Linked DNA regions of Homo sapiens: all the other regions are linked to region 3. The links come from fine-mapping of genetic effects on gene expression. A gene starts in region 3. Each other region holds a variant in brackets. All regions are shown on one strand. Distances are between the middles of the regions. Region 1 overlaps IRAG1 (inositol 1,4,5-triphosphate receptor associated 1). Region 2 overlaps IRAG1 (inositol 1,4,5-triphosphate receptor associated 1). Region 3 holds the start of RNF141 (ring finger protein 141). Region 4 overlaps IRAG1 (inositol 1,4,5-triphosphate receptor associated 1). Region 5 overlaps RNF141 (ring finger protein 141).

What was found. PIP is the estimated chance that this variant, and not a neighbour inherited with it, causes the effect.
Region 1: its variant is fine-mapped to the expression of RNF141 in hypothalamus (GTEx, PIP 0.96).
Region 2: its variant is fine-mapped to the expression of RNF141 in whole blood (TOPMed, PIP above 0.99). The same link has a PIP of 0.9 or more in blood mononuclear cells.
Region 4: its variant is fine-mapped to the expression of RNF141 in whole blood (INTERVAL, PIP above 0.99).
Region 5: its variant is fine-mapped to the expression of RNF141 in whole blood (INTERVAL, PIP above 0.99).

What each region holds. Positions count from the first base shown.
Region 1 is chr11:10,573,892-10,580,053 of GRCh38, reverse strand. IRAG1 (inositol 1,4,5-triphosphate receptor associated 1) reads left to right here. Exons shown (of 21, transcript NM_130385.4): 21 at 3,479-6,162. The coding sequence ends at 3,722. The region is part of intron 1 of IRAG1-AS1 (IRAG1 antisense RNA 1); the gene reads right to left. Among named protein-coding and RNA genes, the nearest start is that of LYVE1, 8.3 kb to the right of the region's middle. The variant T/C (reference allele first, on the strand shown) is at 3,206.
Region 2 is chr11:10,635,273-10,641,434 of GRCh38, reverse strand. All of the region lies in intron 2 of IRAG1 (inositol 1,4,5-triphosphate receptor associated 1), which reads left to right. Among named protein-coding and RNA genes, the nearest start is that of IRAG1, 55 kb to the left of the region's middle. The variant A/G (reference allele first, on the strand shown) is at 3,093.
Region 3 is chr11:10,537,435-10,543,596 of GRCh38, reverse strand. It overlaps RNF141 (ring finger protein 141), which reads left to right and starts at 2,410. Exons shown (of 6, transcript NM_016422.4): 1 at 2,410-2,475. It overlaps IRAG1-AS1 (IRAG1 antisense RNA 1), which reads right to left and starts at 2,361. Exons shown (of 4, transcript NR_046375.1): 1 at 2,055-2,361. RefSeq lists an enhancer at 2,225-2,334.
Region 4 is chr11:10,614,471-10,620,632 of GRCh38, reverse strand. The region is part of intron 10 of IRAG1 (inositol 1,4,5-triphosphate receptor associated 1); the gene reads left to right. Among named protein-coding and RNA genes, the nearest start is that of LYVE1, 49 kb to the right of the region's middle. RefSeq lists a silencer at 2,915-3,115. The variant AG/G (reference allele first, on the strand shown) is at 3,602.
Region 5 is chr11:10,509,272-10,515,433 of GRCh38, reverse strand. RNF141 (ring finger protein 141) reads left to right here. Exons shown (of 6, transcript NM_016422.4): 6 at 368-3,761. The coding sequence ends at 518. Among named protein-coding and RNA genes, the nearest start is that of MIR4485, 4.0 kb to the right of the region's middle. RefSeq lists an enhancer at 3,545-4,455 and a silencer at 6,018-6,162. The variant T/C (reference allele first, on the strand shown) is at 3,184.

The DNA.
Region 1 (6,162 bases), 36 kb before region 3:
GCCCTGGAGTGAGTTTCTTACAAGAACAGGGACAGGGAGGACACACGGAATAGAGGGCAAACTCAGCTCAGTGGCAAAGGTGAGTCTCCAGCAGGTGCCTACCATGCTGACCAATCAAGCTTGGTCTTCACTTTAGGTTGGAAATACTTGGGGTTTTCTTTTAAAATACTTCCTATTTCAAAGGTACTTTCCCCTAAGTTGGGGAAGGAGAATATAACATGTAGATAAAGAGAATATAGACCTGTATCTTGTCCCACTTGTGGTTCCTGCCTGGCCTTTAGGATGCAGAATCGTAGAAATGACCTAATTTAGTTCCAGGGCACTCCATGCAATGAAGTATTATAGGAATGAGGTCTCAGCCCCACCTGGCCTGAATTATCCCCTAGAAGTTCACGCTTAGGGATAGGATAAACTAGCACCCATAGATGAGGTGTTACTCTACCCCACAGATATAATAACCATGCCAACATTCTGGATTTTCAGGACAGCCCAATTTCATATATTCAGCTATGTTGTCTCTATTAGTATAGTTAAACCACAAGTCTTGAATTTTGATTTTTTAAAATGTAGTAATAGCCACCTTGGAAAACCTTCACCAAAATCTATTTTTAGACCCCTGGGATATCTTGGGGTCCAGGGCAGCTCCAGACAAAATATCTAATCAGCTGCTGAAATATTATCTAATCTGGGTATGTATCTGTGCCTCATTGCTGGAAAACTCTGGAAACCACATGCATGCAACAAATAGGTAATGAAGTGAAGATTAGAAGCAAAATGGATAGGCACACAGGAGCTATCAATAGAGCCCAGTTGGTGGAGAATTCAACTAAAGTCAGAGGTCTCAGCCCATGCTGGTCGACCCCATTGTTCAGGGGAAGAGCCGTTAGGAGAACTGGAGAAATGCTTCTCCACTGAAAACAAATCACACACTGTCTCCCCAGTGAAAGAACCTCCAAGTTTAACAATTAAAGTGCAATCCCTACTCCAAGCAACCAGATCCTGTTCTCCTTAGGCCTCATCTCCCTCCTGAGGGTTCTCTGCTGATATTTCTCAGTCCACCACATTGCCTTCCTCCCCTTTAATGCAGTCAAGCAAAGCCCTAGACAAAAAGCCTTTCCTCTGGCACCCGTGAATACAGCAGAGACAGACTGGAACTTCTAACACTTCCAAACACTGAGAAAGAACAAAAGAGAAATAAACAGAGAGAGAGTACATGGAATATAAACAGTCTGGTTTGCAAAGCAAGGGGCTCAATGTCTTATCTAGCTAATTCAATCTCAGGCAATTGTCAGCTCCCTCCCATTTCATGAAACCCCAGGGGAAGTAAGGCTTAGCTTGGTTCCTTTCTGTCCAGCTCCTGGTCATCAGTGAGTGGCAATGGTGCCTGTAACATTTATCATGCACCTGCTCTCAAACATGATTTCTTCCCTGAAATGTTGGTGCCTCACTAACAAGCAAGGTTTGAGGTTATTAAGAGTTCCATGTCCTACTTATTGCATTTTTAAAACACTGGGTTCAGCCCAGCTGCTGATCGCTTAAGAGATTCAACATCACACATTAAAGTATTTTTGTCTGAGTCACGTATCTGTTATATATAACAATTATGTTACAAATATTGCTCTCTTGAGGATCAGTTTAAATAAACTTTGGGTAAACCCCAATATTTTAACCATATTAAAACAGAAAGCACAGTCTTCTGACATTGAACAAGTGAGACTCATAAGGGACAAGATAAAACTTTTGTCTTTTCTCCTAACGGCTGTTCAAACCAGTTCTATGGGGTTAAGAGGACATTTAGGTTCCTTTACTTTTCCAATAACTCTCAGGAAACAGAAGTTTACTTATTATAACCAAAAATTGACTTCTAAAGAAATTCTATTTCTAATCTATTTCTAAACTCTTTTATAGGCCAGGCATGGGTGACCAGCTAAGGTCACACAGACAGATCTTGGTCTCTTCCTCCAGAGCCACACTTAAGAGTGGGGTTAGAGTAGGGAGAAGCCACTCTGGCACCTTGTTTTGGAGGATGGAAATACAGCCCCAAAGGCTCCATTTTAGCATCCAACTCTGTCTAAATAGAATCTAGAGAATCTACAAAGGGCTGAGAGAAAATAACCTTCTACTTCTAAACCCTGCCTTCCCAACAGTTGTGAAAATAGTCAATGATTTTCAAATCAGCGAATGTGTTCACTTTCGTGCTTTCCTTAATTGTGACTGAAATGATCTGATGGGGTTCCCGCATGGAACGGAAACCTGTCAATGTTCTCTGTGGCCCTAGCATCCAAGGCAGGCATTCTGAGCATCTGGTCCCTTTCTAAGGAGGGCATTTATTGAGTCTGTCAATCCTTTGTTAGTCATGCATTTTCTGCTACCTCAAAATTTGAGCTCTCCGCTTCTCAGCCAATGGCTTGGTCATTGCTGTGTGTGTATGAGCCTCAGGATCTTCAGAAAGCACTTCTATCACTTTCCCCACCTCCTTGGTTCAGGAATCCTCAGTATTCTCATTTTTCATATTATTTTTTAAATTGGGTTAGAGGTTAAAAACATCAGGAAATCCTGGCTTAATGAAGGGGCTCAGGGCTTCTTCAGAGAGCTCTAGAATGAACTTGTCAAAGCAGGCCATCTGCCCGGTGTCTTTTTACCACACCACAGAGAGAGAGAGAGGACAAAATGAAAGACAGTTGGGAAGGAATCAAGAGGGAAAAGGGGCAAAAATGGAGAGGAAGAGAGAGATGAAAGGGATAGAGAAAGAAGTGTGGAGAGAGTGAAGGAAGAAGAGGAGGAAGAGGGAGAAATTAGAGAATAAATATTAATGAGGTTGAGATAACATCATGAACAAACCACCCAGACATTGCTAGAGGCTTCTAATCTTCTGCCTGCTCTTGGATGGTTTGAAGTGAACTCTTGAGGTTGATCTAGTCCCTTGTCATTTATCACTGGATATCAAGCTGCTTAGAGTTTAGCACAGTCCTTCTACTCTGGACACAGTTAGATGTGGAACTGAGAACAATGAATTACGCATCTGAGGCAAGGCACAGGTTAGAGCTTGGAACTGATCATTAATGCAGCTAGGTGCTAAAAAGATGCATGGCCAACCAATCCTGTACCCCCGGGCTTGGGAGAGTGCAGATATCAGTAATCACCCCGTGAATAGATGAGGGCATGTATGGATGGATGATCAAACAATTAAGTAGAATGATCTAGA[T/C]AAGTAGCTCTCAACTTCAAGGCTGTGGACTGGTGGAATCAAAATCACCTGGGAAAATTTAGCCAATGATTCCTGGACCATAACTTTGGATATTCTCATTTAGTATGCTTGGGGTATTTTGAACAATTGCTGCCAACCCAATCTAGGCACAGCTAAGTTTGAGAACTATTGCTCAAGACAGCATGGAAGCTATCCGCAGAGAGAACTGTGGGTCTGTGTATCATATGTGTGCCCAGTATACTAAAGCCTCTGCATATTTTTTTTCATTGACAGCAAACTTGAAGAATTGGTCCATTTCTTACAAGTCATGTATCCCAAACTGTGTCAGCACTGGCAAGTGATCTGGATGATGGCTGCAGTGATGCTGGTCTTGACTGTTGTGCTGGGGCTCTACAATTCCTATAACTCTTGTGCAGAGCAGGCTGATGGGCCCCTTGGAAGATCCACTTGCTCGGCAGCCCAGAGGGACTCCTGGTGGAGCTCAGGACTCCAGCATGAGCAGCCTACAGAGCAGTAGGAAACCTCACACCTAGCCAGTGCCCTGCTCTGAGACACTCAGACTACCACCCTTTCCCCAAGTATAACGTCAGGCCCAAGTGTGGACACACTGCCGCCCATCCCATCAGGTCATGAGGAAGGGTTCTTTTAACACTCGGCACTTCTGTGGGAGCTATTCATACACAGTGACTTGATGTTCTTGGAGGATCAACAAAACTGCCCTGGGAAAGCATCCAGTGGATGAAGAAGTCACCTTCACCAAGGAACTCTATTGGAAGGGAAGGTCTCCTGCCCCTAGCTCAGGTGGCTGGGGAGAACTAAAACACCTTCACTGGTGGTTGGGGGTAAGGAGCGGGGCACGGGGGAGGAGGAGGTAGGGGGCAGTAAAAAACTTACTCTCTTTTTTCCTCTCTGTAATTGGTTATCAGGAAGAATTTGCTTAATGACTAACACCCTAAGCATCAGACCTGGAATTTGGAGTTGCAAAGTGACTATCTTCCCATTTCCCATCTCATTTTCAATAACTTCAGCCTCCCATTCTTTCCTTTGGAATGAGAGTTTCTTTTTACAGAAGTAGGAAAGGCTTCTCAGAAAAAAAAAAAAAAGTATAGGCTGAATTTAGCTCAGTGCTTGAAATGGGAAGATATGAATTATTATATACGCATCTGTCCACACATACACACATACTGTTGTGTACACACACACAACATGCCTGTGCACAGAGCCAACAACCCTTCAAAAGTGTGCTCTGGGTGTGTACCTCTGGATAAATAAGATGCATGCCAAGCCAACCCACAGATTTTCACCAGTGTGGGGCAGTCACCAGGCACCTGTTCAATGAGCTGTCCACATGGATTGAAGATGTTTTAAAAACACAGAAAACTCATGGCTTCAATGGCAGACTTACTAGTCTCCATTTCAAATGCCAACTCTGAGCTGCTGTACAGCACAATCTATTCCCTATTCTCTCTTTGAAAACAGTTAACCCACCTCACAGGTGAATGAGGAGAGAAGATGTGCTTTCTGCTTCAGTCTCTTACTCTGTGTGTGACCACATGCAAGAGTAAACTTGCACCTCAGTGCTTCAGTTCAAATGGGGTTTCCAACCCCAGTATAATTAGGGGTGTTTCAGAGCATCCCCAGTTATTTAGCACAACACTGAAGGAGCACATCCCCTCTCCATTTTGACTTCTCTCCCCACTTTTACAGCCACTGCCTTCATCAGTTTTGTAGAGGTTTGATTTCCATGTGGGTTTTGTTGTCATTGTTTTGCATTTTTGTTTTGTTATTGATATTGTTTGCTTTCATTGCTAAAACTCATATACGACTTACTATGAGCCAAGCACTGTTCTCAGTATTACATAGGTATGAATTCATTTAAGTCCTGAAGAAAAAGAAAAAAAAATACGAAGTGGATATTACCCTTCCCATTTTCAAATAAGGAAACTGAAGCACAAAAAGAACAAGTAACTTGACAAGGACACCCCGGTAGTAAATCATGGGGCTGGAGCTCAACCCCAGGGTAGGCTGGCTCCAGAGCTGTGCTCTCCTTGACTCTTCTGATGGTCTCCTAGCTGGAAGCCTCACATTTCAGTCTCATTCCCCCAAGTGGCCCATCAGCTACTCCATCTCTGGCTCCCCAACTAAACAGTTTCTCTCATAGTGCTGGACCTCCACTCACTAGTTTTTTTTCCAGCTGTTCTTCTCTTTTCTTCAGGTCACTCTTCTCGACCGAGTGCAAAAATTATCCCCTCCATACCAGCTTTGATGACCTTCCTTCCATACTCCTCACCAGACACAACATAATAGGTCACACACTCCTCTGTGCTTTCTGGCACGTTTTAAACATTATTATTATTGACCTTTACCTATAGTATACCATGGCCTATTTATGTATCCATCTCCCCTAGCATTTTTCCTCAAAGACAAGAACCATGTCTTACCCATCTCTTGGGTAAGTGCCTAGCATGGTGGCTGACGCTTGGGAGGGTGTCATTAAATGTTGCTCAAAAGAACAAGCAAACATTTAAGGTGGTGGAGAGCAGCCTGGGGACAGCTGACATGCTGCATGCTTCTCAGTACCAGCACCATCACAATGCAAAAAGCAACATCTTTCTTAACCTCAGCTTATTCTGTTTTTCAGTCTACTCTGTGAGAGAGCAGGAATGAGACCAGACTAGCAACACCATTGCCAAGCTCAAGGACTGGGCTCAATGCAGTCACTCCTTCAGAGAGACCCCCCACCCCAAGCATGCCCCACTTTAAAATAGCATGTTTATTGAAGGGGGCATCCTTTACAGTAGCTAGAAAATGACTGAGGCCCAAGCCAGGGTTGATCAAGGATGTGCCATTAAGGTAAAGAGTTACAGAGCAGGGCAGAGGGACTCTGGGGGCAGAAGTGGATGATTTGCCCGGCCTCTTCCAGGGGGTCTGGATACAACTGAAGGAGCTTTAGCTAC
Region 2 (6,162 bases), 98 kb before region 3:
TGTGGTCAGATGCCCCAGGAGAGATGCTCCATTGCGCCGTGACCACAGTGGCTGGGCTCTCCCAATTTAACTCCAGATGGTTGAGGAGACCCAGAACTAAGAGCAACCATCTTTTCAAAACCAAATGCCAAAGTCATTAATTCAATCCCGAAGGGAATAATAAGGGAACATAACATCTAATGCTTAGTGAGCATTTGCTCAGTGCTAGGTGCACTTCCACAGGCTTGCCATCTAGGGCTGCCAGATTTGGAAAATGAAAATATGATTATATGCTGTACATGGTGGCTCACACCTGCAGTCCCAGCTACTCAGGTGAGAGGATCACCTGAGCCCAGAAATTTGAGACCAGCCTGGGCACATAGCAAGATTCAGTCGAGAGAGAGAGAGAGAATACAGTTATGTCCATGGAATATTTGAGACACACATACTAAAAATTATCTGTTGTACATTTGAAATTCAAATATAACTGGGGCATCCTGTGCTTTATCCAGAAATCCTATTTCTATATCAACTTGTTTAATTCTTATAACTACCCTGTGAGATAGTTCCATTATAGATTAGGTAACTGAGGCACAGAGAGGCAAGGTAACTTGCCCAAGGTTATCCAGCTAAAAAGTATACCATAAGGTAGTGTGGCTTCTGAGCCTGAGGCCCTGAAGCCCCTAAGCCAGTAGGTTGTCTGGCCAACGCTATTTGGTCTTACTGCTCTCCCAAGCTTTCTTGAAGGCCTGCCTTGTGTTTGACAGCTCAGAATGGGAGCAGGGATGCGTGTGTGCACTGCATGAAAATCTGGCAGAATTCACCCCAGAGGGCCCCTAGAATCTTCCCACACACTCTCTCCTGGATTACTGTCTCCCCAGTCCCTGATAGAGTGAAAAACAGCCCCCACAAGACCTGAATGTTCCCACCAAAACAGTTTTGCAGAAAAGGAGAAGTTGCCCAGAGCTTGCTCAACGATTCTGTCAGCTGATGAGGGAAAGAACACTATGATTTTATGAGTTGTGTATTTTGCACACATTAGAAGGCAAGTGTGAAGAACCTTCCAGGATGTTCCATCAAGGGATTAGAGGATTTCCTCCTAATCGCTTTATGCTTCCTGCTTTGTAAGCCACTTGGAATTGTGAGTGTCTGCGGTTACCTGCTTGGCACTTGCCACCCATGGCTTGTTTCTGCCTTTTTGTATGGGCACCTCTGCCATGGTCCTCCTCCCCAGTGAGATGCCTACAGTCAGGAGAGCTTTGCTTCAGGTAACCATTAGCCAGCAAGCAGAGAAAGCTCCTATCAGAAGGCAGCTCACTCCCGTGCCTTGTACCCATTTACCTGGTAGGTATCAACACCGAGGGCACTATTAGTAATAGCAGTGGAGGTTACTTCCCCTTCTCTCCCCATTCCTTCATGCTAATGAATGGGAAGCATTGCAGAGGCCCGCTCAGTTCACCTTTGTCTTCCCAGACCTTAGCATAGACCCTGGCCACAATAGGCATTCAATAAATGTTTGCCGGATGATTGGACAGAATAAGGTCCAATAATGTGGGAGTGTTCACAGACCACATCCCTTTCTTGGACGCCAAACAGAATCTGATCATTGCCAGCCCAGTGCCCCTCTCTTCTCCAAGAAGGTCTTTGCTCTGTAAGACTCTTCAGTAAATGTTTGTGAGTCAATCATACAAACAAATGAAGACAATCTGCACAAAAAATAACTGGATGGAGCTGGGGGAGTAAAGGCTGGAGCAGGAGAAAAAGAGAAAGAAGGTAGACAGAGGATCTGGGCAGGGAGGCAAGCAGGGGAAGAGTCATCAGAGAGGGGGCGTGAGAATCGTTAAGGAAAGAGAAAAGGGCAGAGGAGAGGTCAGGATGGGAGTGAAGATTTGTTCCCCTTTCATGTTCTTTGAGAGGTGAGAGTAAAGAATGAAGTTCCTTCTATGCTGGTTTTCTTTCTGTTGAACAGTTCCGTAAGGCGAGCCTTCTCAGAGTCTGCGCCACGTGGATCACGGCTTCATTAGGTTTCAGGGCAAATAGTTTAACCACAACTCCCAACCATAGACTGTTAGGAGCATGAGGTTCTCCTTGTCTGCTAGGGATATTTATGTTTGTCAAATCATCCATCATTCCCCCATTTATATAGTCTCATGTTTTTATATCTTATATTTTATTGTTGGTTACTTCAAGTTGCTTTGAGAAGTAGATAGTGTCAATAAGATTAAAAATAAACAAAGGCCAGGCATGGTGGCTCACGCCTGTAATCCCAGCACTTTGGGAGGCCAAGGCAGGCAGATTACTTTAGGCCAGGAGTTGGAGACCAGCCTGACCAATGTGGTGAAACCCCATCTCTACTAAAAATACAAAAATTAGCTGGGCATGGTGGTGCATGCCTGTAGTCCCAGCTACTCGGGAGGCTGAGGCATGAGAATTGCTTGACCGGGAGGCGGAGGTTGCAGTGAGCCAAGATCATATCACTGCACTCCAGCCTGGGAGACAGAGTGAGCCTCCATCTCAAAACAATACATAAAAATAAAATAAAATATGTATTTTACTTATTTAGCAGCCTGAATATATGAAACTGTTAGAAATGGATATATGCTATAACTCTCCTAATACCACCACAATTATTTTTTCAGAATACAACATGGAATTAGCTCATGTTTGGCCCATCCTGCCCCTTTAAATAGACACAGCTTATCCTCATCAATGCATGCCAGGAATTTGTAAAGCCCCACCACAAGGGGTGGTGGAAACCATATGATAGAATGCATGTAAAAAATGATATTTTAGACAAAATGCATTTCTTCTTGTTCATCAGAGGACTCATACAAGAAAGAAATTCTCTAAATATGACAGACATGAAAAAGGCAACTTTCAGAGCTCAAATTTTCACAGTCAGAATAAAATCCAGGGAAAGAAGCCCGCGCATGCTATAAGCACAGTCAGAGTTTCCATTGGCGTTCCCATGGTGATAGGCATGAGGCTGCCCAGATGATGTGGGTGGGAGAGATTTTAAGCACAAACCTCCTGTGCTCTGGAAAACCAGGCCAGGATGAAAACTACATGACACAGGGCAGTAACTCAGATGCATTTGGGGCCAGGGAGCACAA[A/G]TCACTGAAGAAAGCCAATTTAGGATAGCTCAAACCTGGTTACTCTGCAGAAATATGGGCCTAAGATTGTTTGATCTTTCAGTTTAAGGAAAAGCAGGCTATCCAGACCTTTATGTGAATTCTTACAATTATGGAATGTTGATAACTAATTTAAAAACTTGTAAACACTACTAGCAAACAGGCACATGGGTCTCTAATTTGCACCTCTGAGCTCAGAATATGCATCAGAGGATGCTGATTGCTTAATTGACATCCAAGAGATCACACCTGCCAGAAACACTGACAAATCCCTGATTCCCAGTAATGCCTTTTGCTAATGCTACTCCTTTTTAATGATGTGAAGAGATTCCTCTGGAAAGACTTCAGCTCTTCCTACTCACCAGAAAACCCACACAGTAGAAAACTCCCTATTCCTTCTTCTTCCCTGGCTCTCCCATTTAGCTTGGCACCTGCCCCTGGCCCTGCCTGCTGCCCCCTCTATCTGGCTACCTGCCATTTGACACACTGCTTCCCCTTCTTAACCTCCCCAGCCCTTGTGAATACTGTTCCACTGCATGTCCTCGGGGCCCCAGATCATTGTTCCACTTCTCTTCTGGTCCCCTGGAAACCCCAGCCTCTGCTGCTTGCTGGCCTCCCACCAGGGGAGCCCACTGAACAAAAGATGGGAAAAACTGGCTCACCTTGAATAGAGCCATCATTCATTTTAATAATAATCATGACTCAAGGGTACTTGTAGACCATATGACACTTATCAAAGTGCATACACATTCGTCATTTCTTTTTACTTGCATAATCTTCCTGTGAGAGAGAGCAGGCCTTTGGCCATTGTGCCATTATAGGAACGGAGGGATAAAGCCACAGGAGGACAAGCTTATCACCAGCCCATCAAGGCATACTATCCAGAGAATGAGTTGTTGCTTTTCAGAAAACTCCCTGGGTGTCTCTTCTAGGGGGAGTCCTTGACAGAAGGATGGGTATCTGTGTCCTCAGAGGGACTGGAGCTCTGGGATCATGAGGACAGGTCAGCCAGTCTTGGTTTCAGCCACAAGCACGTGCTGACTTCTTGTCACTCCCTCTTGGCCAGCTCTAGGTTTCCAAATGGAGACACAGCTCCTATTTACCAGGGAGCTCCTCAGAATTCCTATAGGGGATGATAGATGTTCTAATAACTGGGCCTCTTCTGTCATCTCAACCAGTGTGAATAGAGGGATGCATGGATGATCTGCTGTCAACATTTCTGTATTTCCCTTTGGGTAGTTAAGTTATTCTCAAGCCTAACCTTCAGGGCTTCCCATCTCCAAAACCATAAAGACCAAACTCATTAGAGTAGCTTCGAGGTCCTTCAGAAGCTGGCTCAATCTCTTATTGTACTTTCACAATTCCCCCAGCCCTGACCTCTCCTATCTCACATGTCATAGTCCATGCACCTGCACCAGCTACACTGACAAATCCCTGATTCCCAGTAATGCCTTTTGCTAATGCGATTCCCTTTGGCCAAATCCTGTCCTCTAACATCTTTGTCGTGCAAGCTCCTATTCATCCTTCAAGACCTAGCTCAAATGTCCACTCCTCTATAGAGTCTTCTTTAACTCCCCTCACTAAAGAGTTTTCTTTTCCTTCCTCTGAGCTTTCACAGAATGTGGTCCATCCCTTGTTTCCTTATATTTATTATGAGTTACTTCCCTGTATCCCTTGCTTGACTGCGAGCCCTTTAGGGTCTTCTCTTCATATCTCAAGTTGCTTTTGGCACATGGTGGATAACCATAAAGTGTTTGTTGAAAGAGAAAGAAATCTAAAGTAATGTACACATTTATTTAAAACATTAATCATATGCTAGATGCTTAGCACATTTAGAATATCAATCATGGCCTGGCATCGTGGCTCACACCTTTAATCCCAGCACCTTCAGAGGCAGACGTGGGAAGATCGCTTGATTCTGGAAGTTCAAGACCAGCCTGGCCAACATAGTAAGACCCTGTCTCTAAAAAAAAAATTTTTAAGTCAGCCAGGCGTGGTGGTGCACACCTGTAGTCCCAACTACTCAGGAGGCTGAACCAGGGCAATCACTTGAGCCCAGGAGGCAGAGGCTACAACGAGCTATGATTGTGCCACTGCACTGAAGAAACTAAATAAATTAAATAAATAAAAATGTCAATCATGCATAGGTACCTTATCAATGTTATTTTTAATCTTCACACTAACCTTGTGAGTTAGACTTTATAATCATGGATCATAGAGAGGTTAAATAACTTGTCCACGACACATAGCTAGTAGTTGAAATTTGAGCCCAGGTTTGTCTGACCCTTCCAATAGGCAATGCTGCTTCCTTCTGCTTCTACACAGCCCACGTCCCTGCCCAAGCTTCCCTTCCATGTCCCGGGAGATTCTGAGTGCCTCCTCTTCCTTCAGCCACTGTAGCTTTCTGCACTGAATCGCTCCCGGATAAGAACACAGAGCCCAATGAACATCTCCTCAAGGATCTGGCTCTGGGTTTCCACATAAAAGCATCCTTTCCACAAGAGAAGCAGCATGGTGCTCCCCAGCTGGACTCTCACCCAGAGACTTCTCCAGCTCATGTGGCCTTATGCTTGGGGCCAAAGAAGGGAAGAGATGAAAATGAAAATGGGAAAAGCTGGGTTCACTAAAAATTGTGGGACGTAAGAAGTCCAGATAGCACTGTATGAGACCCATTTCACAACAAGGCATAATGTCAAAAGGAGAGCAGGCCTCCTCCCTACCTTGCAGGGAACCAACACCTGCACACTGAAGGCTCAAGAACACAGCCTGGCTCTGCCAGAGGCTCCAGCCCATTGGCAGCTCCCACCGCCAGTGGGGCTAGTGGAGGTGAAAACATTTCATATGCAGGGGCTCTAGAAGGATTTGGCCCACCAGGGAAAGTGGCAATAGAGACAGTGGGCACCCACTGCTTTGAAGCTGCGGGAGGCAGCACCAATAGTGGAGGTGGCAGCAACATGCTCTGGGACGCTAGGAGGCAGGCCTTTGGCAAAGGCAGTCAGGTGCTCACAGAGGGAGCAGTGGCAGCACATGCCAGTCAAGGGGGTGGGAAGGA
Region 3 (6,162 bases):
TACTATACTGTGTTGAGTAGCTCTTATTATAATGTCTTGAGATCAGGTAGTGTAAGTCCCAAAACTTTGTTTTTTTTGATGAAAGTCTTGACTATCCTAGGTCCTTTGCATCTCCATATAAATTTTAGAATTAGTTTGGTCATTTCCATCAAAAAGAAATCTGCTAGAATTTTTATTGGAATTTCCTTAAATCTGTAGGTCAATTTAGGCAGAAGTGATATCTTAAAAATGCTCAGTCTTCTGATTCATGAACATAATGTATCTCTATTTATTTAGGTCTTCTTTAATTTCTCTTAACAATGTTTTTTATTTTATTTTAGATTCAGGGGGTACACGTGTAGTTTTGTTACATGGGTATATCGAACAATGCTGAGGTTTAGGCTTCTAATGATCCAGGTCACCCAAGTGGTGAACATAGTACCCAATAGTAGTTTTTTCTACCCTTTTGGAATCCCCAGTGTTTATTGTTCCCAACTTTGTGTCTGTGTACTCAACGTTTAGCTCCTACTTATAAGTGAGAACATGCGGTATTTGGTTTCCTGTTTCTGCATTATTTTGCTTAGGACAATGGCCTCCAGCTGTATTCATGTTGCTGCAAAAGATATGATCTAGTCCTTTTTGTGGTTGTATAGTATTCCATGGCGTATATGTACCACACTTTCTTTATCCAATCCACTATTGATAAGCACCTGGGTTGATTCCATGTCTTTGCTATTCCATAATATTTTATAGTTTTCAGTATACATGTCTTTCTCATCTTTGGTCAAATTTGTCCCAAATTTGCTGCTTTTTTTTTTTTTTTTTTTTTTGCTGATAAGAGATATTTAAAAATTTTCCATTTCTAATTGTTCATTGCTAGTATATAGAAATACAACTGATTTTTGTATATTTGATTTTGTATCTTGCAACTTTTGTAAACTCACTTATGAGTTCTAGCAGCTTTTTTGTAGTATTCCACAATTTTCTTATGCAAATAAATGCAGTGCTACAACTTCCTTTCCAACTTGGATGCCTTTTATATATTTGTCTTTTTTTATTTCATTGACCAGAACTTCCAATACAATGTTTAATTGAAGGCAATTTTTACAGAGTAATATTTCTAACTCCCAGGCCCGGATTAGGCTGAACTATGGAATCTTGTTGAATTTGATATCTTTTGGAATTTATTAAATCATTATTTATACTTCATTTTTAAGCTTTTTCCTTTTCCAGTGTTCAAATATTCATCAAATGTTCAAATATTGAACAAGTACCATGCTGGCTGTCAGGGAAATAATGGTGCACAAACAGGCATGGACCTAGCGCTAATGAAGTCTTACCGTACTACCGAGGCAGTTTAAAACAGGAATTAAAAACACAGGTTCAGGGTTCTGTCTGCTTGGGTTTGAATCTGGCTCTGCTCCTTAATGGTTGTTTGACCTTGGAAAAGTTAATCGACTTTTCTAAGCCTGTGTCTTAGTGAAGGTATTAATAATACCTACTCACAGGATTGCTGTGAAGATTAAACGAATTAATACCTTTAAAGTCCTTAAAATACGGTTTGACATATAGTAAATGGTCAAAGAGTATTATTATTAGAGGGAAGAATTAGCTCTTCACAAGGTGAATCTACAAGTGACTGGTGAAGGAGGGGTGTACAAACAAGAAACATAAAAACCAGTTTAACTGCTAAGCATAGAGGCAGCAGTGTCAGCTGTACCTGGGTTAAAATCCTTGCTCTGCTGTTTATTGTCTAGGCAACTTTGACCAGACGACTTAAACAAGAGCAATGCCCGTAAAGTGCCTAGTGCAGTATTTGGCACACAACAGATGCTTAAAAGACAGCAATTACTGATTCAGACGTCCCGCAGAGCAGTAATATCACTAACATGTGCTCATCATCATATCTATCATTTATCAAAGCTCAGGATTTTGAACCTTGTAATTACTTTTCATACATTCTCTTATGCTTAACAACTCGGCTAGGTGAACACAATCCATTGCCTCATAAAGAAACAAGATGACCTTTGTGTATCTATCATCAGTGGGGAGGCTGGAGGTCTGGGAAGTGGTACCTTGGAGCCCAACTGTTGACCAAACCAGGGCTCTCAGTGCGGCCTTGGTCGCCAGCGGGGCGCTCCACTTTCCGCTCCGGAGATGGCACCAGGAGAGATGGGAGTCTGCCAGGCTGTTTCCATGGCCACCTCATGAAGCCCCTGCTCCGGGAGCGTGACAGGCGAGACTCTCCTTCGCCGCCACCTCTCGTCTCAGATGACCATCTGGGCTCGAAAGCCCTCAGGAGCTGCGGAGCGCGGGTCGGTAGGGGCGCTGCAGAGGAAGGTTGGGCGCCGTCTCCCGGCAACGCGCGGGGGGCGGGGCTTTGCGTCACAGAGGTGCGACCGGGTCCCGGCCTGAGTCGCGGCCACCCGCAGGTCTGAGCTGTGGGCTGAGGCAGCGCAGCCGCTGCCGCAGGGTGCGCGATGCCTTGAACCTGGGGTGAGCTCCGCGGCGCTGTCCTTTCGTGTTTCCCTTGCTAGCTGCTCCAGGACTCTGGGTCTGGGAAGAGAAACCCCAGAGGGCCCTCCGCTGCCGAGCCAGGCTTCCGCGGGGAGACAGGCCTAGCCCCGCCGCCCTCCCCGGGCCTCGGATTGGGGCGTGGGGACGGCTGGGGAGGCCATTCTATTGACGCCCGTCTTCTGCCCGGCGGGTTCCAGTTGCCCGGGGTGGCGGTGGCTTGTCCCGCCTCGGGGTGGTTCTGAGGGACCCGGAGAGAGTTTTTCCTTCTCTATCCCAAAACGGTTGTTTGAATATTGCCGCCGGCTCAGTCATTCGGCCGCCGGACTTAGCTGTTGGTTAAATGTCCAGGTGCGCTTGAGGAGGGGCTGAGGCGGCGTAGCCAGAGCGAGCGCTAGGGTGGCCCGCGGGCTCGGTCTCCGCCGGGCTGGACACCCAAATAAGAAACCTTTTGCCTGGGACGATAGCTCAGAAATAGCCACGTCGATCTACTTAGCCAGCCCCACACTTATGAATTGGCTTAGGCTGCTACCCTTCCCAAAGGTCTTTCCTTGTCAAACTAGCTGCTACCTTGAGACCCGGCTAAGAAAAGAACGTTTTCTTGCTAATAATAAGAAGGTAGTGATTACACAGCAGGAGCAGAAGGCTTCTGTGTTAGCTTTTGAAATTATTCCTTCAGTTATTTGTCTCGGCGTTACAAAATGTGGATTTACGATTGTTATTGAAATCGATCCCTATGCCCCTTATTAAAGGTAGTGTACCTTTTATATTCTGACACTGTCCTATTTAGCGGTGCCAGCTAATTCAGTTCTTGCCTCTGGCATATATATAAAGCTGCTGGAACACTTTCAATTGTTTATAATTCTTACATCTTCAGCACGAATTTATTCGTTTTCACTCCCTTCTGCCCATTCTTCTTGCTATAAAATGACCTCTACCCATTCAGAATTTTGTCTGGGGGCATGAGCTGCCACCGGCCGACGATCCTAAATTAGTCACCTCCATGTCGAAGTCACCCGTCTGAGAAGTGATGCTTTCTGAATTCAGAGCTCAAAAATAGTATGGATTTTTATCCTTTTCTTTCACATTGCCTGACTTCAGTTTCTAGAACTTTTTCTCAAGAATATGACTATATGTTTCAAAAATTAATATTTGTCATTTGGTGTAAATGAACTTTATATTCGATGTGTGTAGCCTGATCCTTCTTGGTTCCCATCTAAATACAAACACGCTTTCCTTCCCAAAAAGGCAAGGGAGGTCCAGAGAGAATTCTTACAAGTCTAATATGCTTTTTCCAATATGAAATGCATTTAGTAAACACACTGTTACTGTGAGAAATCCATATTCTTAATCTCCTAGTACGGCACTCTATCCTTTTGTAGTTTCTCTCTCCTTCTCTCTCTAATATATATGTATGTATCTTTTTCTGATCAAGATCTTTGATTCTGGAACAGGCATTCTGGACTCTATAGTGACTCTGGCCTAATTATTTCACTATGTATCTATATTAACTTGTCTTGAAAAAAAAAAGTTGATATCTGTTTACAGATCTACAGTTTGAGTAAACAATGAGTAATAAAGTAAATAATATCCTTAGGGACCCAGTCAGTAGTACTTGGTATTTATTACTGATGTTAAAGTTGACTTGACAGTGAAAATCATTGATGTTTATTTCAATTAAATCCTTTTAGGTGAGGTTGATACAAAATTTGATGGAGAACTGGTTTCAGAGAGGTTTTTAAAATACTACAGTGCAGTACTTGTCATTTAGTCATTTTGGTGCATTTTCAGCCTTTTCCATTTTGCTTTAGTTATTTTATGAATGAATTATGGTTTAAATTTTTAGGAGTTTTTGAGCAGTTTTTTCGTTTTTGCTTTGCCAGTTACCCATGATGTAATTTTAATATTTTTATAAGGAATATTTGAACTTCCACAATTCATTTGTTAGAAAAATAAGTGATTCACTATGTACCACCCACTAGAGAATGTGGCATTTTTGGAATCCTTGATCTTGTGCATTTCAAAATAACAGTTCTTTATTTAGAAAATCCTTCAAATGCTTTTTGAAAGCATATTTTTATCTTGCAAAAAATGACTGTGTTATAGGTGGCACAATAATATGAGAGCTGCTAGTTCTTTGAGAAATCTTGACCAGAAATTCATCTTTTGTTGAATTCTGTGCCAGTGGTTTGCAAATTATGTTTCTATGCAATACCACTGTTGCATGGCCTAGGGGGGAGTATCTTGTTAAAATCAAATAGTAAATGTTTCCCAGTTTACATAAGCATTAATTTAATGACAGATTTTCACAGTTTTACATTTTCTTTCATACATATTTTTAACTTCTGCTTCTCTCCAACCTAGTACTAATAGATGACTGACCAAATTAACAAAAGTCAAAAGAATACTAAGTGAATAATAATAAAACAAAAACTGCCAATGGTATTTACTGCATTTATTCAGTAAACATCTATTGAGTGCTTGTGTATCTGCCAGAAGACAGACCATAGCTGCTGTCCTCAAGAAGCTCACTAGAGGGAAATGGCCAAGTGACTTAACGAATGTCATAGTATGATAGAAATATGTGCAGTCACCAAAGAGGGACACTGAAAAGCTGTGGTGGTTGACTAGAGGATGGCCTCAACAGATTGTTTTCGTGAACATGCACTCTGTGTTGTGGTTTTATATTGTATGCAGATCACAGAGTCATATCTTATTTTCACACCCATATAGTGATAGATGTTAATATTTATCAATATTTTATGGTTTTCAAAATAAACTAAATGTCAAGCCCTCTTTCTGGAACCAGGTTGAAAACCACTTCTGCAGGCTCTCTCAGGTAGTCTCTAGATACTGTTGCATTTTAATGCAAGGAGTTAGTGATGAAGTTTCCCAGATACCAAGTACAGTTACAAGATAACAAGTTAATATGCTGCCTCAAATTATAAACTTTACTCAAAGTTAGGGCAGCAGATGAAAACAATGCTGAAACAAAGGGGATCATTTTCTATTAATAACTCAATAAATAAGCAACTAACTCTTCTTTTGAAATATGGTTTTGGTGGGTAATGTAGGGTAGCAAAATACGCCACTTTGGCATAAGGATTATTTTGAGTTAAAAGCACATTGAAAAGCAGCAGATGTAAGAAGTGCCCACTGACCCTCCTAATTCTTCCTGAAGGCTGGAGATAAAACAGCCATGTGAAAGATGTCCTCTCTATGCCAGGAGGAAGACATTATCATTACTAGAAGTGGGCAATCAAAGCTGAGAGAAATGTGTTCAAAGAAGCCTTCTTAAAGTAACCCTTATCTTCCTAGTCACTTTTCTGTGATTAACTGGCCCAGCCCAAACCCTTGTGTCTTGTCATGTTTTCACAGTTTACTTCTCCTTTGTCCAATCTACTATGTAAGCTTTTGGCCTTAATTACTTTTTTTAGTCCTTATTTTTCTTGAGGGCTCCTGTGTATGTATAAAAATTACTAAATAAAATTTGTGTGTTTTTCTCCTGTTAATCTGTCTTAGGTTAGTTTAATTCTTGGGCCCAGCTGGAGACCTCAGAGAGCAGAGGGAGAGAAATTCTATCTCCCCTATACCACGTTGGTTAAATTATCATAGGTATTTATATTAAATATTGAGACTATATATTTCAAAAGTTCAGTTTTTTTCTTT
Region 4 (6,162 bases), 77 kb before region 3:
TAATTGTCATTGTTTTAAGTTTATTATTATTAGTGTGAAATTTCATTATTATTTCAATTAATTTGCTAGGAAGCTCAAACTTAAAATGTTAAAATAGTCACTTTGTTTTCTTACTGGGTGACTTAACTTCTTACATCTTTGCCCGTGTACCCATTTAGGTCTGGGGTTTTTCGTTGATTTGTTTGGTTTTTGTTGGTAATATATGTAAACTTGATACATTATAGATATTAGCCCTTAATTGGCTTTCTTTCTTTTGGGGGGGGCTGTATTTTAATATATTTTCATTCAATCTTTTTTTTGCTTTTTAATACGTTTTGTGTTATTTTAGAGGAATTGTAAAGATTTTACATAATCATGTTTGCCTATCTTTCCCTTTGAGAAGTCTTCTATTATTTCAATCATTATAAAAATACTACTTCTCCCCAGTTGTAATAATATTTCCACTTTTTTTCTCTATTAAAAACACTGTTATAATGAATACTATCTTACATAGATCTTTATAGAAATCTGTTTTTTCCATGGGCTACTATTCTAGACTTGCAATTGATTGGTTAAAAGTATTTACTTTTAAATGTATATGTGCACACTGCCAGATTAGCTTACAAAATTATACCAATTTAGACATCCACTACCTACAGCAAAACTTTATTATCCAATATTAATAGGGCATAAGATGGATCTTAGAAGTAAAATTATCAGGCAAATGAATGTGACTCCTATAAGCACCAAATTTTAAAAATAAAATTAACCATGGTCAGTGTCCAACAATATACACTCCCTCTCATTTTCTCTCAGTTCTAGGGTCTGGATGCTTAAGAGCTCAGACTTCATCACTTACCAGCTGCATAGCCTTGGTCAAGGTTCTAATTCTCTCCACGCTTCAGTTTGTTCATCTTTTAAAGGAGGTTAATAACAGTACCTACTTCACTAAGCTGCTGTAATGTTTGCATGTGATACTGGTCTTTATTCCAGCAGGAACCTGGCATACATTTTCATTTCTGTCATTTAGGTTGTAGAACTCTATCTTGCCAACCAAATGGGATATTCTTGTACACTGTGCTCCACAGTGCTAGAGATGTGGTGGGCAACCCTCCGTGTTTAATGAATACTTGCAGACTTGTGACTTTCTTTTCTTATATTCTGAAAGCCCCATCAAAGAGCCCCGTCCCCTCCCATACCCAGGATAAAAGGCTTTGGGAGCATTTTATGAGAGCTGGCTCAGATTGTATTTATAGGCACTAAATACAGCCCTGCATATGAACTCATGGGGAAAAATCCAGTCTCTTATGATGGTTGTTGGCTGTTCCTTTGAGAAATGGGAAAAGATACTTATCAGAACATTCTGGAGTCTGAAGAATTTTGGCTCTCCTTCAGTTTGTGAGGACTGGGAGGCTCATTTCTGTGCTGCATCTAGTCTTTCCAACAACCCAATCAGTTCCCTTCTCAGGAACTATATTGTATGCTGTTTTGATCTTTGATCAGTTGCAGGTTATTTCAAGCCAAATATGTGAGACTGACTGTGGGCCAGTTCTTAGGCTGTGTGCTGGGGATGCATTAAGTGAAAAGGGTTCAGGCCCCACCATCAGGGAGAAGGCCTTGTCCCAGCTACCATTATCAGTCCCCTTGGCTAACTCAACAGCCTGCAACCTGGTCCCCTCTCCCTGCACTCCCAACCCCCAACCCAGCTCACACCATGGCCAACACAGCAGCCGCAGGGATCTCTAGAAGGCAAATCTGTTTCAGCATCTTCAGAGGCTTCATTCTGCTCTTAGGAAGAGCACTTGAATCCTCAGTAGAACCTACAAGGCCCTGAATAGTTAACCCCACCCACTTCCCCAGCATATTCTAGGGCCACACTCACTCTCACTCACAATATTTTGGCCTGCCTTCGGCAGCTCATTCTTTCCTCTTCTTACGCATGGCACATTCTGTCTTCTGCATGGAATGTTCTTCCTCTCTCCCTCTTTGCCTAATGAACTCCCAACTCAATCTTTAGATATCTGCTCATGTCACTTTTCTTGGGAAGGGTTTGCTGGTACCTTCGGATCCCTTCTCCTTTGTAAAATCTCTCAGTGTGAAATTGTTTGGATGTTTCTCTGATTAATCTCTGTTCCCCTGAATAATGAGCTCCAGAGGATGTGGCATGTCAGTTTTGCTTAGCATTGTATCCTTAGCTCCCAGCTCATTGCCAGGGACATAGTAAACACTCAATAAACATTAAACAAATGTATGAACGAATAAGCTCACTGTCTAGGAGAGGAAACATAAGAATAGACAAAGTCACTACGATAAATTGTGATAAAACTTTAACAGGCCATAAAGTACCTGGGAACAAAGAGGAAGAAGCAGCTAGCTCAGTGGGGTTGAGTCAGGGAAGGTTTTCAGGAGGAGCCACCTTGAGCTGGGGAAGAGAAAGTCATCCCAAGCAGGGGGACAGCAGAAGCAAAAGCATGTAGGCATCTTCTAGTGCTTGGCATACTTCAGGAACAGAAGGAATGTCATGTGAACTAAGTGTGAGCTACACGTCCCAGAGAGATGGGCAACAAGGTGGGAACAGTGGGCTGAGACCAAGGAAATTGAAGGCTTTGAAGGCCAATTAATGAGTTTGAATTTCATTTAGGACACTTTGGAAAGAGAAGCCTGCAGGTAAGGAAGCATCAGGATCAAATCTATATTTTAGAATAATTCTTCTGGACAGATTGTGAGAGCTGGCCTGAAACAGCAGAGGCTAGAGACAGGGAGACACCAGGTAAAAGGATAGGGAAATAGCCTGGTGAGAGGTAATGAGGTGGTAGTAAATGTGGACAGGATAGTTTGACAGCTATTGGAGATCAGCTTGTCAGGACTTGATGAGGAGATGGAGTTGAGAGGCAGACCAGGAATACCACCAGGCACCTGTCTGCATGGTTGTGAGGGTGATGAATTGTGAGACAGGAGGAGGAGTTTGCTTGAGAAGGAAGACAGTGAATTTGAGTTTGGACATGTCAAATGCCCACGGAAAGCAGCTTGAATGCAACAGACAAACCTGGTTTTGCATTCTGGCTGTACTGCTGATAAGCTGGACCCTAGTAAATCACTTTAACTCAGCTGAGCTTCAGTTTCTCCAGAAAATGCATTTCATAATACATTCTTTGTACTTTCAGAAACCAATTTCTCTTCTTTGGAGGAAGCAATTACCAAAATTCAGCAGGTCCTACAGTTTCACTTCACTTCAAGTTCAATTAAACTCTAATACTTTTAATTTCAAAAAAGTATATCTAGTATAATCTCCCTCTTTTTCCCTTGCTCCTTCTGTATTTGTGGGGAAGGAGGTGTTTAAGCTATTTTTTATTTGCAGTACTATTGTAAGAAATGACAAAGTGTATCTACTGCATAGTTGATGTTCAGTAAATGGTGGCTCTTGAAATGATTTTTATTCTCCTTAACCAGGTGGCAACGTCTAGAAGGTAGTTGGCTATCTGGACCTGGATTTTGAGGGACACGTAGGCTGAGGCAGAGAAGTACATCGAATGGACAGTCCTTCCAAAACCCCCAGTCTAGACTCAGAGCCTCAGGTCTTGGGCAGGAAAGAGGCCTCCCTGAGAAGAAAGAGGTAAAAAAA[AG/G]TTTATCCCCAACTAGCAGCTTTGACTTTTAGGAACCATCCTGGGACTCAGAGCATCTTTCAGAGCTCCAAAAGTAATTTTTCCAAGTCCCTGACATGGTCAGAAACAAATATTTTCATTGGAATGAGCTAGTCCTGGGAGATATATTTGAAAATAAATTTATTACTTTTTGTTGAAAGTGGCTTATGTTCATATCTAAAAATTCAACCAATAGTGAAAAATACAAGGAAGAAAGTAAAAATAGCTTACACTAAACACCTCCTTCCCCACTAATACAGAAGGAGGAAGGGAAAAAGAGGGAGATTATACTAGATATACTTGTTTGAAATTAAAACTATTAGAATTTAATTGAACTTGAAGTGAAACTATAAGACTTGCTGAATTTTGGTAACTGCTTCCTCCAAAGAAGAGAAATTGGTTTCTAAAAGTATAAAAAATGTATTATGAAATGCATAAAGGGTTTGGAGTTACTGAGGTAGTTTTTTGTTTTTTGTTTTTTGTTTTTTGTTTTTGCTTTGGTATGAGTTTTAATTCAATTTTTATAAATAATCATGTCCATAGTACAAAATTCAAAAAGTACAAAATGAGACATAGGAAAAAGTAAGTCTCATTACATCTCTGTCCCCCAGTAGCAGAGGCAACCACTGTCACTATGTTTTAGTGTAACTTCTAGATATATTCCAAGCATTTCTAAATATAGACATATATGTAAAAGTGGATTTTTCTTTTTTTTTTTTTTTGAGATGGAGTCTCACTGTCACCCAGGCTGGAGTGCAGTGGTGCCATCTCAGCTCACTGCAAGCTCCACCTCCCGGATTCACGCCGCTCTCCTTCCTCGGCCGGGACTACAGGCGCTCGCCACCACGCCGGGCTAATTTTTTGTATTTTTAGTAGAGCTAGGGTTTCACCACGTTAGCCAGGATGGTCTCGATGTCCTGACCTCGTGATCCGCCCGCCTCGGCCTCCCAAAGGGCTGAGATTACAGGCGAGAGCCACCGCGCCCAGCCAAAAGTGGATTTTTTAAACATAAATCGTAGTATATTATACAAGGTGTTCCAAACCTTGCTTTTTTCACTTAGTAATATACTTTTTTTTATTATTATACTTTAAGTTCTAAGGTACATGTGCACAACGTGCAAGTTTGTTACATATGTATACATGTGCCATGTTGGTGTGCTGCACCCATTAACTCGTCATTTACATTAGGTATATCTGCTAATGCTATCCCTCCCCCATCCCCCGGACCCCACCACAGGCCCCGGTGTGTGATGTTCCCCTTCCTGTGTCCAAGTGTTCTCATTGTTCAATTCCCGCCTATGAGTGAGAACATGCGGTGTTTGGTTTTTTGTCCCTGCGATAGTTTGCTGAGAATGATGGTTTCCAGCTTCATCCATGTCCCTACAAAGGACATGAACTCATCCTTTTTTATGGGTGCATAGTATTCCATGGTGTATATGTGCCACATTTTCTTAATCCAGTCTATCATTGATGGACATTTGGGTTGGTTCCAAGTCTTTGCTATTGTGAATAGTGCTGCAATAAACATACGTGTGCATGTGTCTTTATAACAGCATGATTTATAATCCTTTGGGTATATATCCAGTAATGGGATGGCTGGGTCAAATGGTATTTCTACTTCTAGATCCTTGAGGAATCGCCACACTGTCTTCCACAATGGTTGAACCAGTTCATAGTCCCACCAACAGTGTAAAAGTGTTCCTATTTCTCCATATCCTCTCCAGCACCTGTTGTTTCCTGACTTTTTAATGATCGCCATTCTAACTGGGGTGAGATGGTATCTCATTGTGGTTTTGATTTGCATTTCTCTGATGGCCAGTGATAATGAGCATTTTTCCATGTGTCTGTTGGCTGCATAAATGTCTTCTTTTGAGAAGTGTCTGTTCATATCCTTTGCCCACTTTTTGATGGGGTTGTTTTTTTCCTGTAAATTTGTTTGAGTTCTTTGTAGATTCTGGATATTAGCCCTTTGTCAGATGAGTAGATTGCAAAAATTTTCTCCTGTTCTGTAGGTTGCCTGTTCACTCTGATGGTAGTTTCTTTTGCTGTGCAGAAGCTCTTTAATTAGATCCCATTTGTCAATTTTGGCTTTTGTTGCCATTGCTTTTGGTGTTTTAGACATGAAGTCCTTGCCCATGCCTATGTCCTGAATGGTATTGCCTAGGTTTTCTTCTAGGGTTTTTAGGTTTTAGGTCTAACATTGAAGTCCTTAATTGATCTTGAATTAATTTTTGTATAAGGTGTAAGGAAGGAATCCAGTTTCAGCTTTCTACATATGGCTAGCCAGTTTTCCCAGCACCATTTATTAAATAGGACTCCTTTCCCCATTTCTTGTTTTTGTCAGGTTTGTCAAAGATCAGATGGTTGTAGATGTGTGGTATTATTTCTGAGGGCTTTGTTCTGTTCCATTGGTCTATATCTCTGTTTTGGTACCAGTACCATGCTGTTTTGGTTACTGTAGCCTTGTAGTATAGTTTGAAGTCAGACAGCATGATGCCTCCAGCTTTGTTCTTTTGGCTTAGGATTGTCTTGGCAATGCAGG
Region 5 (6,162 bases), 28 kb after region 3:
AACAAATTATGGCATAGCGATACAGTGTATGTTAAAAAGAATAAACAGCTCTAACAGGTGCTGATACATACTAGTCTGTAAGATATATTGACAAGTGGAGAAATGTGTGTGTGCACGTGCGTGCATGTGTGTACACATAAGCTTAATCCAGCTTAGTCTATCTCTGGAGGAATATATAAGAAACTGGTAACTGTGGTTGCCCCTGGGAAAGAGAATTGAAGATTGAGATAGGAGGGAGGGATTTATTTTTCACTATATATTTCTATGCTATTTCCTTTTTAAAAGCCATGTGCATGTATTACTTTAAATAAAATCCTGTTTTTAAAAAAGAAGAAAGCAAACTGTTTTGTTTTGACTTCTCTAATAGGAGTGATCGACACAGGAATTGCCCTATTTGTCGCCTACAGATGACTGGAGCAAATGAATCTTGGGTGGTATCAGATGCACCCACTGAAGATGATATGGCTAACTATATTCTTAACATGGCTGATGAGGCAGGCCAGCCCCACAGGCCATGACCTTGAAGTGAAAGTCTTCTGTTGCTATTGTGGGCTCAAATATTTGGTCATGGGGGAAGAATGTAGGGTTGTGGCACTGGCACAGACACAGGAAAATCCATTTTCCCCACTCTTTTATTTTTGCTATTCTGATCATTTGTCCCCCTTTTAAAAATAAACTTCCCATGTCTTCCATTTGTGGTACTAAAATTTGCTACTGTTTTAGACCATATTTTCCTATTATTTATCTGTTCAAATTTGTATTATTACAACTAATAGCTCTTGAATTCTTTGCTAAAGGTAACAGCAACACTTCCAGAGGCTTCTAAAACACTACTGTTTTGCAGGGCAGGAGTATTCTGGAATCTTTTTACTTAGATATAAAATAAACCTCGAATATTAAAAAGTTGTAGCCATCTGAGAGAGGAAAGTTTAAGTGACTGAAAATGTAGAATACTTCAACGTGCATGTTACTACTTAAAACTAGTCTTTCTGCTGGAATCTAAGGAGTATATATATATATGCCCCCTTGTGGTTAATTATTGCTCCTTTAATAATTTTTACTTGAAATGATCCACAATTATTTCATAACTTTAGCAGTGTGTTTTGGAACTACTGTACTTAAAGGTTTGTTTGTTTGTTTTTGCCATACTGTATAATTTGGGTGAGGTCTACAAAATTGGGTGTGACTTTCCTTTGCAAATGGATTTCTCCTGGGGAATTTTCTTGGCTGTTCTGGAAATGCTTTCCCACAGCTGGGTAACTGTTCTAAATGGCTTTGATAATGCTCACACATCTTGGAGTTTCAGAAGGAAATTATTCTGCATCACAAATACTAAATTTTATATTTCTAAATTACTATAGGTCATTTAATATTGGTTTATGGTGCTTTTATTTCCTTAACTTGAAAACATCTTTCTGAGATTTCAGAGTCCTCAAATTTCTTAGATTAAGAGACAAGAGGCCAGTGCAGTGGTTCACACCTGTAATCCCAGCACTTTGGGAGGCCGAGGTGGGTGGATCATTTGAGGTTAGGAGTTTGAGACCAGCCTGGCCAACATGGCGAAATCCTCTCTCTACTAAAATACAAAAATTAGCTGGGCATGGTGGCAGGTGCCTGTAATCTCAGCTACTCGGGAGGCTGAGGCAGAATTGCTTGAACCCAGGAGGTGGAGGTTGCAGTGAGCCGAGATCACACCACTGCACTCCAGCCTGGGAGACAGAACGAGACTCCTAATCAAAAAAAAAACACAAGAAAATAGAGTGAGGCTTTTTTACCGTATATACATAAAATACTTATGAAAATTAGAAGATAATTTGGCATTCCTACTGTTTCACTGTACTTCCATTGAAATACTCTTTCCATTAAAATATTCTGAAACAATATAGTAATAATGGAATTGTGATCTTCAGTTGCACCTCAACCATTTTTTTTGCTTATGAACTAAAATTTCTAACATTAACATTTCGGCATGTAATAAAACAAGGGCCTATCTCCTTTAAAATTTAACATTCCATGTAACTTTTCTGACTTATCATTCATAAGTTGCAAATATTACTATTTTCCTAAACCAGGGTACACAATTTAAGTTGCCACTTATTGATGACAGAATTTCTGGATAGTAGGATTTTAATAGGCGAGCAAATAAAATTCAAATCAATTTCAAGGAAAAACATCTGGCCAGGGGTAGCTTGATTTCGCCCCCAAAAATACTGAAGACTAATCCATTGACATTCATAATGGGACAGCTAAGTACCAAATAGCTAACTACTCCCTATGGAGGTTTATGCAAGCAGAGTACCAGGGGTTCCATCATATCAACCTGGCAATGCACTTGGTGGTTGTGTGACCTTGAGAAAGTCTCTTACTCTTGTTTATGTGTTCTTACTTTAGAAACTGAGACTTTATTTGTGGTTTTCACACTATTTCAGCAGCAAAAACTTTTTCAAGGAAAATCTTACAGAACCTTTAAACACGTGTGCATACACACATACCCTATACCCCACTATATAAAAGTCATATTATTATAAATTTCCTTATTATATAAACTTTATATACTATAAATGTGATTAAGTCAATGAATAAAAACATTAATGCATTGGTGATATCCAGCATGTTTGAATTTGGTGAGTAACACACATATAGTGGGAGTCGTTTTTTTTAAAAAAATTTTTTAATTAAATTCAAGTCAAATTTGCAGAACCCTGTATCTCCTCCATAGATTCTTAGTATTCCATGGAACATATTTTGAAAACCTTGGGATAGATGATCCACTGAAATCTTTTCCAGCTCTAAGATTTTAAATTGTCCTTTTAGATTAGACTTGCTGAGTTTAATTCAGATTACCTAATTTTAAAATGTTTCTGAAAAGTGAACAGAGTTACCTTACAGAGTTTTGGATCTTTCCAGGGATAGCCAATGATTTTATCCCCCAGAATCCTTCACCTTTCAAGGAGTTATTTAACAATGAGCCCAGTGACTCAATAGGGCCCAAACCTTTTTATTTTACAATATGAGCTCCAAGACACTTACTGATCTACTGTGAATATAAAATGTTATTAGCCTTATCAAATAAATAAATGAGCACAGCTCTTTGTTCGCTCTATTGAACTGGGTGATAATTATTTAGATGTGAATGTTAGGTCAGTTCTACTGTAATAACTAATCGTAAAAGTTGTAAATTTG[T/C]TTAATGGATGAAATGTACACTTTTTGTATTCTGTACAGCTTTGTCTTTTTTAAATATGAAGTACTTAAATGTACTTACTATGATAGGAAATATAATGTGTGCCTTCTAGGATTTGTGAAGTGGTTTCATGAACTCTAAGGAATTTGTTTTCCCTATCCTAACTCAGTAACAGAGGGTTTACTCCGATTATGTATAGAACCTTAGTTTGAGAAAATGAATTTTACTATGTACTGAATTTAGAGGTTGAGAATAATAGGATCTGTGTTATTCTTAGTACCCACTGATAAATTGTGCAATAAATAATCTTTCGCAAGTGATTTTAGCTAATTGAAGAGATTATTTTCCTATGTAATTTCACATTCTAATATACTAAATGTTTATATTCCTTAGAGAACTATTTTATATTGTGCGCTGGGGGCTTGTGATGTTTGTGTGCTGTTTTAAAATTCATTTCAAATTGGACTCGATTTCCTTATATCTAATATATATCTGGGAGAAAAGGCTGCTTGAAAATATCTTTTGATTCAGTGATTTTTAACATTGGGAAGTTGAGTTTATTAAAAGGTAGTCTGAAGAATTTGCATTTTTAACTGCTATTGTCTGAAGTCAAGCTTAGTCTATCCGGGAATAAGAAAACTACTTGCAGATGAGGGAAGTTAACAGGTCACTCACATTCATGCTGGGCCACACAATGACGATACAATACAAACCTAAGCAGCTGACAACAGACTCATTTGTTCGTATGTCTATTCACCCTGCTGTAGCAGTCCTCAACCTTTTTGGCACCAGGGACTGCATTCATGGAAGACCATTTTTCCACAGACCAGGGTTGGGGTGGGAATAGTTTCGGGATGAAATTTTTCCACCTCAGATCATCAGGCATTAGTTAGATTCTCATAAGGTGCATGCAACCTAGATCCCTCGTATGCGCAGTTCACAGTAGAGTTCATGCTCCTTGAGAATCTAATACCGCTGCTGATCTGACAGGAGGTGGAGCTCAGGCAATAATACTCACTCGCCCGCGGCTCAACTCCTGCTGTGCGGCCTGGTTCCTAACAGGCAGCAGACCAGTACTGTCCACAGCCCAGGGGTTGTGGACCCCTACCCCAACAGACAGCAAAAATAAAATGCTCAACCCTATTGTAGTTTGTTTACCTTGTAAAATCATTTCCAAAATATAAGAATGTAATTAGAGAAACATCGTAGAATCTTAGTGCTGAAAAGTGCAAGGACATAAGAATGAGTGGCAGTTGGTAGTTAAATTGACTGTATCATCATACTGTGGAGAAATGCACATTTTACTGTCAAAATACATAAAAGCCTTTGCAGAGATAGGTTTTGACACGCTTGCAGCTGTTTATAGTCTTACTCTCTGTCATCTTCTATCTTACTAATTGCAAAAATTTCCAAGGAACTGTTTATCTGGTTAGTATTCCCCTAGTTACACTTGTTCTTTATAATGATCATAGTTCAGGCAGAGTATTTGGGTATATCACCTTCAGTCATGTCTCAAACGCAGGAAATGAAGAATATTGTTTCACCAACACTCAGAAGTAAAGAGAAAGCAAGAGAAAAGTGCTTTCGGCTCTTGTTTAATCCAAGAGGCCGTGAAAAATCACAACCCAGGAGCTGTGATTTGTTTTCACGAGGCAAAGAGCAATGATGTCGATCGGTTTCAGCGGTACAATTTGAAGTAACACATAAAGTGAACTTGAGCCCTTAAGGATAAAGAAGGGATAACTGCCTCAAAAACTGTTGCTTTAGAAACCTAAGCCAGTATACAATTAATTGCCTCTTATTCCAGTTGCAAACACAAAGGAAAGTAGGGATTTGTCCCCCAAAAGGCCAATTAAGTATAGCAATGTAATAAAAGCACAAAGTGCTATAGAAAAGATGTCAGAAAAGCTTGCAGGACACCGCTGCTAGCCCCATACCCCGAGCCAACCAAACCCCAAAGACACCCCATACAGTTTATGTAGCTTACTTCCCCAAAGCAATACACTGAAAATGTTTCGACGGGCTCATATCACCCCATAAACAAATAGGTTTGGTCCTAGCCTTTCTATTAGCTCTTAGTAGGATTACACATGCAAGCATCCCCGCCCCAGTGAGTCACCCTCTAAATCACCACGATCAAAAGGAACAGGTATCAAGCACGCAGCAACGCAGCTCAAAACGCTTAGCCTAGCCACACCTCCACGGGAGACAGCAGTGATAAACCTTTAGCAATAAACCAAAGTTTAACTAAGCCATACTAACCCCAGGGTTGGTCAATTTCGTGCCAGCCACCGCGGTCACACGATTAACCCAAGTCAATAGAAACCGGCATAAAGAGTGTTTTAGATCAATTCCCCTCAATAAAGCTAAAATTCATGTGAGTTGTAAAAAACTCCAGTTGATACAAAATAAACTACGAAAGTGGCTTTAATGCATCTGAACACAGAATAACTAAGACCCAAACTGGGATTAGATACCCCACTATGCTTAGCCCTAAACTTCAACAGTTAAATTAACAAAACTGCTCGCCAGAACACTACGAGCCACAGCTTAAAACTCAAAGGACCTGGCGGTGCTTCATATCCCTCTAGAGGAGCCTGTTCTGTAATCGATAAACCCCGATCAACCTCACCACCTCTTGCTCAGCCTATATACCGCCACCTTCAGCAAACCCTGACGAAGGCCGCAAAGTAAGCGCAAGTACCCACGTAAAGACGTTAGGTCAAGGTGTAGCCCATGAGGTGGCAAGAAATGGGCTACATTTTCTACTTCAGAAAACTACGATAACCCTGATGAAATTTAAGGGTCGAAGGTGGATTTAGCAGTAAACTAAGAGTAGAGTGCTTAGTTGAACAGGGCCCTGAAGCGCGTACACACCGCCCGTCACCCTCCTCAAGTATACTTCAAAGGACACTTAACTAAAACCCCTACGCATTTATATAGAGGAGATAAGTCGTAACATGGTAAGTGTACTGGAAAGT